Linked DNA regions of Homo sapiens: region 1 is linked to region 2. A link means that fine-mapping ties the variant in region 2 to the expression of a gene that starts in the linked region. Tissue or cell type: fibroblasts. Region 2 holds a variant in brackets; the other region holds the start of a gene. All regions are shown on one strand. Distances are between the middles of the regions. Region 1 holds the start of TMOD3 (tropomodulin 3). Region 2 overlaps TMOD3 (tropomodulin 3).

The links. PIP is the estimated chance that this variant, and not a neighbour inherited with it, causes the effect.
Region 1: it holds the start of TMOD3, and the variant in region 2 is fine-mapped to the expression of TMOD3 in fibroblasts (GTEx, PIP 0.98).

What each region holds. Positions count from the first base shown.
Region 1 is chr15:51,827,246-51,832,622 of GRCh38, forward strand. It overlaps TMOD3 (tropomodulin 3), which reads left to right and starts at 2,408. Exons shown (of 10, transcript NM_014547.5): 1 at 2,408-2,591. RefSeq lists silencers at 2,313-2,467, 2,688-2,967.
Region 2 is chr15:51,848,974-51,854,350 of GRCh38, forward strand. All of the region lies in intron 1 of TMOD3 (tropomodulin 3), which reads left to right. Among named protein-coding and RNA genes, the nearest start is that of TMOD3, 22 kb to the left of the region's middle. The variant G/A (reference allele first, on the strand shown) is at 3,134.

The DNA.
Region 1 (5,377 bases), 22 kb before region 2:
GTACACGGATTTAAGAGATTCATGTTTATAAGCTTTGTGATAAAAATATGATAATGTATGCCTGAAGAAAGGAAAAAATCCACCATCAAACTGCATTATTTTAGAAAAAGGAACTAAAATAAGATGTATACATTCGTTAGGAAAAATTTGAAATGAATAGCGAAAATATATTTAATATATGCCTAACAGCCCATATTGGAAGGTGAGAGAGGAAAAGTGTAATAGATTAAGTCAGTCAGACACTGAATTAAAAAGTCTCTCTGACCAAAGCAAAAGAAGCCATATTGCAGAGGAAAGTCCTTCTTAAAATAAACCATATCAGCTGGGTATGGTGTTGCATGTCTATAATTTCAGTACTTTGGGAGGCCACGGTGGGAGGGTCCCTTGAGCCCAGGAGTTCAAGACCAGCCTGGGCAACATAGGGAGACCCTGTCTCTACAAAAAAAAAAAAATTAAAAAAATTAGTTGGGTGTGGTGGCATATGCTTGTAGTCCCAGCTGCTCAGGCTACTCAGGAGGCTGAGGTTGGAGGATTGCTTGAGCCCAGGAGGTCACGGCTGCAGCGAGCCATGATAGCACCACTTCACTACAGCCTGGGTGACAGAATGAGATTGTCTCAAAAAAAAAAAAATTGATGAGATTTAGGAGACACATCAGTCTGATCAGCAGTGGAAATCACATTAGAATTTGACTCAAGAGAACTGTGTCTCATCTCTGGATCTCCAATTACTGGCTCTGGGACCTTATACAAATTACTTAACTTTTCTGAGTCTTCATTTTCTTATCTATAGAAATGGAGGATACCAGTTTATTCTTTATAGAGTTTTGAGGACTAGATTAGTTTTGAGGATTAGATGAGATATTACAAATGAAGTGCTGGCCCAGTGGTTGGTATGTATTATAAGTATAAACATTCTTATGAACCTGAATTCTGTAGGAAATTGCTCTCAGAAAGCTGTTATCTCCAAGAGATTGACCCAAAGATGGTATAGAAAATAAAATGCAATGGCCACAAGATTGAGTGTTGACTGTCCTCTAAGTATTTGCAATTGAGAAGGGTTTTTTCCTGGCCAAGCACGGTGGCTCACGCCTGTAATCCCAGCACTTTGGGAGGCCAAGGTGGGCAGATCATGAGGTCAAGAGTTCAAGACCAGAATGGCCAACATGGTGAAAACCCATCTCTACTAGGACTACAAAAATTAGCTGGGTGTGGTGGCACGTGCCTGTAATCCCAGCTACTTGGGAGGCTGAGACAAGAGAATCACTTAAACCTGGGAGGCAGAGGTTGCAGTGAGCCGAGATCACACCACTGCACTTTAGCCTGGGCGGCAGAACAAGACTCTGTCTTGGAAAAAAAAAAAGAAGGGTTTTTTTCCCTTAAAAACCTAAACCATCAGTGATCTCCATTGCTGAAATTAGTGGGTGCCAGTTGCATGAAATTCCAGGATGTTTATCTAACCTAGGGTCCTCCCTCCTCTGAGGGGAAGAAGTAGATGCCAGGAGAGGTTTAAACCATGAAGTGGCTCGCACACTGGGTGTAGCTGGAATGTACCTCAAGCAGGCACGTCAGTCCACTTCTTTGGCTGCATTTTTGAAAGGTGTGTCAAAGTTTAGCATTATTCCTGGGGATGGTCTACTCCTGAAGAGCAGGCCAGGAAAATTCCCAGTAAGTGACTAAATGAATAAATGGAAAAATGTCGCAGTTCCCTCTCCTCAGAGCCTCGCACAAAAGGTAGCCATTACATAGGCCACTGTCAAACAGTCCTCTGAGAGATTCCCACACTCTTCCTCTTCCCTCTAGACTACCCATCTGCCCCAATCCCCCCCTTGAGCAGCCTATTCTGTTTTTTCTCCCACTACAGCAGCCAGCCCCACCGCCTGGTGTAGAGCTTGAAGATGGAAAGGGAAGATAGGATGGGCAGAAACTGCCCTGCAATAGCTACATCATCCCCGAAACGCATACCTAAGAAAACCACTAAGGTCACCACACCCTGGAGGTGACATTCGCATGATTTATGCCTCTCTTGGGCTTTAGATTTTATTCCTTTACTTTTCTATAACTCTGTCATGACCAGTTTAAAGGCCCCAATGTCATGTCCTCGCATTAACAACCAAGGCTACAATGCAAGCCCTGCCATGTGCGCTTCTTTACAAAAGGTCAAAGTAAAAAGGAAATCTATACCAAAGAGCCTCTAGATACTATTTCCAGCTTCGGGGAAGTCCATAGTAGGTACTTCCACGGGTAGAGAACATTATCTTAGACTGGGATAAGGGTTGGTATTCGCAGTCCCCTTCCTACGTTCTGCCCATTGTAAAGACCAGGGTCAGCGTTGAGCCTCGCCCTTCTTGCTAGAACTACAACTCCCAGGATGCCCCGCGGCACGGGAGTGCGCACGCGCGTCGGAGGCGAAGGAGGAACCCACCGCACCTACAGGGCGGTCGAGTGAGGGAGCTGCTGGCGGGTGGGTCTGGCAACTCTTTGGGAGGCCGACGCGGGCGGACCGGCGGGTGCTGGGAACCGAGCCTCGGCTTGCGGCCGGCAGTTTCCGTGGGTCTGTGAAGAGGTCGGCGGCCCCTGCGGGCGCCAGTCAGGTAAGCCCAGCCCGGTGCTTTCCAGGAAGTCCGTCTGCGGGCGCGGGTAGGGAGTCGCACCGGCCATGGTGGCTGAGGAGGGAGAGGTTGCTGCCCGCCGGCCGCCCGACTCCAGGCTCCTTCCCGACGGGTCCGTCTCGGGGAGCAGGGGTGCGCGGGGGCTGCTTCTGCGCGAACGGCCCGGGCGGGGGACGTGGGGCGCGCTGGGCGTCGCCCGCCGGTCTAGGCGCGCGAACCTGGCGTTCCCAGTGAATCACCCGCGGCCCGGGCGCCCGGGTTCGGGACCGGCCCCCTCCCCTCCCGCTGAGCCGCGGCCGAGCTGGCTCCCTGCACCCTACCCAGCGTCGCCGGGACGCGATCACACCGAGATGGCACCGAGCCTCCTTCAAAGGCTTCGGCTTGTTGAAAGTGGGGCGGCGGAGTGGGGGAGCCAAAACTTAGGGCACACCCTTTTTGTGATTGAAATGTGGCTGCCCTTGCATTCACCGGTTTGATCTGTCTGCTCTTAGAATTAAGTTCCTAGCTCCCAGGCAGCACAGCTGGATCCGGCTGGGAAGTTTGTGTGTTAGTTTGTTTTGAGGACGTGACTGTGTCGTTATATTTTTGCTTGCGGGGGATGGTGTGTTTCCTCCGCAAGCCTGCATTCTGATTACAAACAGAAATGGGAAACAGCCACAGTTTCTTTTTTTCTTTTTAATGTTTAGTTAAGAATCGCATTTCCAACTTGCCCTTGGCCTCTGTTAAAACCAAAAGTCATCTGGCAATGAACACTGCAGTAAAACTTACCCCAGGAGGCCATACTTCAACAGGAAATAAGCCTGTGGAGATTTAAGTTAGTTATGTGCAGCCTCCCTTGGTTTGTAACATTTTCATGCAGCTCATGTCTCCTCTCCTTTTCTGAGAAACCTTCAGATTAATTTTTTTGGCAGATTAAATTGATTAATTGGCCCGTCAAAAATATATTAGGCTTGGAAAAATAGCTTTGCCAAGTCTCATTTACTCTTGCTAGTTTCTTCTTCCTAGGCACCTTTTCACCTTTAAGAGTCAGCAATCATAATAGTTACAGTCCCCTTTCTTACACATTCCTACGAAAGGAACAAAACGAATTAAAATGTCCCAATATATTTTAATTCTTTGAGCTTTCTTTGCTTTTGCAACTCTCAGAAATTGTAGTTTGCTGATCTTTAAAATTAGGTTGTTGGACCAGATGACCCCCAAGATTATTCTGCCCCTAAATATCTCTCGTTTTTAAAAGTTCATTTATTTTGCTCATTCAGGAAACACTGGCGATATGCATTCCAAGTCCTATGATAGACATGAGAAAGAGCAAACATGAGTTCTTGAGAATGCTGTAGACCTACTGCTCAATTTTATTTAATCATATTTTTTATGATTAATTCCTAAATTTTGTGGTATATCCAATATGCCAACCTACATTGTAATTAATAACTTCATCTGAAATTAAATAGGTACAGGTCAAATCCCATTCAAAGATTTTTCGTGTCTTAATTACTGGCCCATTGAAACAAAACAGGTTTGGTACAACAGAAAGGCCCTGAATGGTGGAGGGCAGTCTTTTCAAACACTTTAGCATGCATAATTCATTCAGGATATTCTAGGTTTGAAGTAGAGTCCAAAGTCTGTATGTCTGATGGGTGATGCTGTCAGAGACCATACTTTGAATGTCAAGTGTGGGGAGGTAATTTTAGAGGTATTTTCAGGTGTTTTTAATAGCAATTTAAATACTGGTACTGATAACTGATATTAGATACATAATTGATGGCTTTTTCAACTCTCAGTTTTTTAAAATACTGTAGTCCTATGAACTCTAACAAGAACAATTGTCATCATAAGTTTTTCTCCTTCTTTCCTTTTCCTTTCTCTTTGCTAGTTTTTCTTTTTTCTCTTTGCTTTTTTTTTCTCTCCTCCTCTTCCTTCCTTAATTGTTTTCATTCACATTAATTTGGCAATTCATGAATTCAAGTATGTGTCTTGCCCCATTCTGTATTCTGTACAAAGCAATGTTTCAGGCTCCTGGTGAATATGTATAAGACATGAGGCCAGGGCCGGGCCTGGTGGCTCACACCTGTAATCCCAGCACTTTGGGAGGCCAAGGTAGGAGGATTGCTTGAACCCAGGTGTTTGAAATCAGCCTGGGCAACATAGCAAGACCCTGTCTCTACAAAATAAAATAGATTAGCCAGGTGTAGTGGTGATGCCTGTAGTCCTAGCTACTCAGGAGGCTGAGGCAGGAGGATTGCTTGAGCCCAGGAGTTTGAGGTTACAGTGAGAGACAATGATTGTGCCACTGCACTCCAGCCTGCGTGACAGAGTAAGACCCTGTCTCTCTAAAAAAAGAAAAAAAATTATATATATATATATATATATATATATATGAATGACATGGTTCCTGTCTAGGACCTTATTCTCTTTGGGATTAGGCAGATATACTTATGTATAGTCCACAGCACTTGTAAGAGCCACCTGTAGGGAATAAAAACGTGGTAGATATTCAGGAGAGATATTTTCCAGTTGCAGGAGTGGGGAACAACTAAAGTCAATATTTTTTTCCATTCACTGGTCATCTCTTTCCCCAGGCTATACTGTCTATACTGTTTGAATGTATGTGACATATCTACATAGAGTATAGTGGAATTCTGTAAATTTATTTTATTTGGAACCTGAGATGAGCCAGATACATGAACATAATTAGAACCGGATGTGGTGGCACGCTTCTGTGGTACCAGCCACTTGGGAGACTGAGGCAGGAGTACCACTTGAGCCCA
Region 2 (5,377 bases):
GACTATGATTGGCTGGCACTCAGAGGAGTGTTTATTGGAGTATGTTCCCGATCAGCTTCTTTCGGAAGTTGGGAAGCTATTGCAATAGCCCAGATAAGAGGAGATAATGGCTTGGACCAGAGTGGAAGGAAGCAGTGGAGATGGTAAAGAGATGACTTTTAAAGGTAAAACCAGCAAGATTTGCTGGGTGGATCATGTGTGGAGTGCGAGAGAAATCAAAGTTGACTCCAAGATTTTTGGCCTGAGAGACTAAAGAATGGTGTTGCTGTTTATTACATGGGAAAAACATGGCAAGAGCAGGTATGGGGGAGAAAATTAGGAGTCTGTTTTGTATGTTTACATTTGAGAAACCTGTTAGCCATCCAAGTGGAGATTTTACATGGATAGTTATTTGCAAGTATGGAATTCAGGAGAGAGGTCCAGATTGGAGATATCAATTTAAAAGTTATCAGTGTATGAAATCACCAAGGCAGTGAGTATAGAAAGAGAAGCTGTCCAAGGAACTAAGTACTGGGGGCACTCCAACATTTGAAGATGAGGAAGATGAGGAGGAACCAGCAGAGGAGAATGAGATGGGGCAGTCAGGGAGGAAGGACCAAGAAAAAATGATGTCCCCAAAGCCAAGTGAGGAAAGTGTTTTATGGCCAGACACTGTGTCTAATAGGTCTCTTAAGATGTGGACTAAGGTGGCTCCTGCCTGTAATCCCAGCACTTTGGGAGGCCAAGGCAGGTGGATCACCTGAGGTCAGGAGTTCAAGGCCAGCCTGGCCAACATGGTGAAACCTCATCTCTTCCAAAAATACAAAAAAAATTAGCCAGGCATGGTGGCTCACACCTGTAATCCCAGCTACTCGGGAGGCTGAAGAAGGAAAATTGCTTGAACTCAGGAGGTGGAGGTTGCAGTCAGCCGAGATCACACCACTGCATGTCAGCCTGGGTGACAGAACGAGACTCTGTCTCAATAAAAAAAAAAAAAAAGATGAGGACTGAAAATTGACAGTTGGATTTAGCACTGTGCTGGCAAGATCAGTTTGGGTGGAGTGAGTGGTGGGGATGAAAGCCAGATGGGAGAATATTTGAGACAATAAGAGGGAGAGGACTCGGGTTACCAAATATAGACAATTCTTTTAAGTTTGGCTGTAAAGTGGAGCCAAGAAGTAGGGTAGTGTCTGGAGAGGGATGTGAAGTAGAAGGAGAGTTTATATGTTTTTTATTTGAGGTATGTATTACAGTCTGTGTGCTAATGGGCATGGTCCAGTAGAAAAAGAGCACAATTACTGGATAATTGTGCTCTTGTATAAATGTATACTGGAACCCTTGTATAAATGAGCAGGGATGGGATCTGGTTCCAAGAGGCAGGATTGGCCTTAGGTAAGAGACTGGACAGTTTATCCATAATAGCAAGAGGGAAGGTAGAGTGTATGGGTACAGGTGTGGCAGGTTTGTTGATATGATGGGAACTCAGATGTCATTTTATGATTGCTTCTATATTCTCAGTGAAATATTAAGGTAAGGTCATCAGAGAGTGAGGGGTAGGCAGTATTGAAGGTCTGAGAAAAAAGAAGTAGAAAAAAGTCATCTAAGAGAGTAGGAGAGTGACTGGACTAGGATTTGAAATACTAGAATATTAGAATTATTAGGCAGTACTCTTTGACATTAGTGGTGATACATTTTAAATGTAGCCAGTCAGTTCATGTATTTTTTCTCCAGCTTCATCTGCCACCCTGGTGCTGGTGAGGAGTAGGAAGAGTTAGGTTTTTTGTTTGTTTGTTTGTTTGTTTGAGACGGAGTATTGCTCTGTCACCCAGGCTGGAGTGCAGTGGCGCGATCTCGGCTCACTGTAACCTCTGCCTCCTGGGTTCAAGCGATTCTCCTGCCTCAGCCTCCTCAGCTGGGATTATAGGCACGCGCCACCACGCTCAGTTAATTTTTGTATTTTTAGGAGAGACAGGGGTTTCACCATGTTGGTGAAGCTGGTCTCAAACTCTTGACCTCGTAATTCGCCAACCTTGGCCTCCCAAAGTGTACAGGCATGAGCCACCGCACTCGGCCGGAAGAGTTAGTTTTAACCAGATGTGGGGTTTTGCCAGAGGAGTTCCAGAGAGACACAGTCAAAGATGTTGAGAGTTATGGAGGGGCACACTTATTGGTAAGGATAAGGACTGCTGGGGGGTGATAACCATGGGGATGTGGAGCTGAGGTAAGCTGAGGACTGGGCTGTGAGAAGAAAGAAGGTCAGGGAACTCAGAGTAAGGGGATCATCACTACGGTTCCTGGGTGCCAGATTCATGACTCTTCAGCAGTTTGACCAGTAAGCATTGAAAATCTTGTAAAGAAAATAAGAAACAGCAATTGTGTAAAAATTTTTTAAGGCGTGACAAGTTATTTGCTTGTTTCACTTTTTAGACTCAATCTTTTGCAAAAAATGATACCAGAAATGGCATTAACAAAAATACATGTTCTTTGGTTTAGACTGTGAATATGTTTAAGGACAGCCAGCAAATGTTTTATTTAGTAACTTTTGATTGGTTGATTTTGTTTAGTTAGTTGATTATCATTATTATGGGTTTGTTCATAAACTGTCATATTAGGACCATTCACAATGTGGATCTCAAAACAGATTACGATGAAAATATCAACCAAGAAACTCTTTTTAAAGCAGGCTGAGAAATACAGGTAGCATAGGGCAATGTTCAGCTCCTCAGGATAAAAATAGGTGTGGAATAAGAAATATTATTAAATACTAACTGAAATTGACTTAGAAGTCATCCTTCGTGCAGCTCGTGTTTTTATCCCCTACAGCCAACCGCTGTGTTTCCAAAACATATCACGTTTATCTACTTCTCTCCATCTCCACAGCCACAACTCTAGGCAAAGCTGCCATCATTTCTCACCTAGATTGCAGCTATTAGCGTAGTCCTAGGCTGAGAGAGCTGCTTGGAGACCTCAGGTCCTAGCTCAAAAGTCATCTTTCAGAACAGTCCTTCTGAACCATTTCAGTTAGCCTTCCTGATCCTCCCCACCTCCTTTGCTTTAAGTTTTCTTCCTTATAGTACTTATTGCTGTCTCGTATTACCTTCTTCCTTTATTAATTGGTTTTTGTCTGTATGCCACTTTTAAAATAGGGCAGGGA[G/A]CTTGTCTGTCTTGTATACTGCTTATGCCTGTTGTCTAGAACAAGTAATTCATGGCGTAGGAAATGTTCAAAAATATATGTCAAAAGAACAGTAAGTATATTGAAAAACAAATATTCATCTGGGAATCTTGAGATCAAAAAAATTCTCTGATCTGGTGGGTTGTGGAGATTGAGCACCCAGGGATCCTAGGAGAAGCCAGTGAGGAAAAGACAGCATAACAGTCTTAAGCCTAGCGCAACTGAAGAGAAGGCCTCCAGCACCTGAAGTGGAGTTAACCTGAGGCCTGGTGTCTCCTGAAGAGGAAACTCATTTGGTTACCTAAAAAAAAAAAAAATCAAATTTTCATTTAATTTCAGAGATGACTGATGAGCAGATTTTTTGTTTTGTTTTTAGCTGGGGGAGATTAGACAGCAGAGAACTCTGAATACTAAGCTCAAATGAGTTGATAGGGAAGAAAAGGTGAAGAAGGGGCTGCAAAGGATCAACGGAAGTATCAAAAATTCATTTTCAGCCCCCCCTTTAGTTGTGATAAGGGGATTAGAGTTTGGGAGCAAGAGGATACTAGGTAGCTGGAGGAGAAAGAGGGAACTACCAAAGAAGGGAAAGCAGAGATTGATGTGTGATCCAAGTATATCAAATTTGTGTTAGCTATGTACTGTACCTGGCAATGGCAGCCCAGTGGGGAATGAGATCTGGGAGAGATTCTCTGCTCTTCAAGAGCTTTACAGTGTCTAGTGAGAGAGACAGGTGAAAGACTAACTCCAATACAGCATAATTGTTGGTTTGAAGTAAGTTTGAGGGGTGTCTTTATGGAGTAGCTGGCCAGCCAGCTCTGGGATAGGATTTCAGGTGATGGCCCACAGCTTTATCTTTACAGAGACACAATTTCAATCAACTGGTAGGTGTCTAATCTCTTAAAAACTGGCATGTAGCAACCATACTCATAAAAAAGACTTATACGTAAGCCAAAATATCAATTTATTAATATCTAGTGAGGAAAGCTACATGAATAGCTGAATTTTAATTAGAAGATATCTTGGTGAACATTGAGAAGAATAAGAGGAAATAATTGGATGATGAAATATTGCCTTCTTTATTGTTTGTTTATTTTTAAGACAGAGTCTCACTCTGTCACCCAGGCTGGAGTGCAATGGTGCAATCATGGCTGACTGCAGCCTGGACCTCTTGGGTTCAAGTGATCCTCCCACCTCGGCCTCCTACTAGCTGGGCCTACAGACGTGGGCCATCATGCCTGGCTAGTTTTTTGTATTTTGTAGAGATGGGGGTCTCACTATGTTGCCCAGGCTCGTCTCAAACTCCTGGACTTAAGCGATCCTCCCTCCTTGGCTTCCCAAAGTGCTGGGATGACAGGCGTGAGCCACTGCACCTGGACTTTCTTTAGTTATGGTACTGTCATTTTATATATCTGATTTTCTAGGAAACACTCTTACCATTTTATGTCAGTATTTTCAGTTACACCCTTAAGTTTTGAAGTTACCGATGTACATACAACCTGTGGTTATAATGGATGTATATATAAAGATAATAACAACAGTTTGGGCATGATGTCTTATGCTGGTAGTCCTACCTACTCAGGAGGCTGAGGAGGAGGGATCACTTGAACCTAAGAGTTTGAGGCTGCGCCACTGCACTCTGGCCTGACAGAGCGAGTCACTGTCTCTTAAAAAAAAAAAAAAAAAAAAGATAATGGCAACATCATTAAGGAAATCATTAATTTTGCCTGGGTGTGAGAATGGAGACCAGGGAAATTTTCAGGGAAGATAGGACATTTTCAGCTAGGTCTTGAAGAATATGTGAGGTTCAGTTGAGGATAGAGGTAGATGGGAATGAATGCATTTTTTCTAGAGAGAGGGAACATAATAAGCAAAGGAATAGAGAGGCCTAAAGTTTGTGGCCTGTTTGGAGTATAGGCTATGTGATGGGGAGCAGTCCGAGATAATATAGGAAAACTAGCTAGTAAGGACCAGCTTCTCTGAACTGTGTATCTTATGCTGAGGAGATTGGACTTTCTCTTGTAGGTCAGGGATGGGCAAACTTTTTCTGTAAAGGGCCAAATAGTAAATATTTTAGCTTTGCAAGCCATCTGGTCTCTGTTGCAATCACTCAGCTCTGTCATTGTAGCACAAAAGCAGCCATAGGCAATACATAAATGAATGAATGTGAATGTGTTCAAATAAAACATTTACAAAGACAGGCAGCAGGCCGAATTTGGCCCCCTGTAG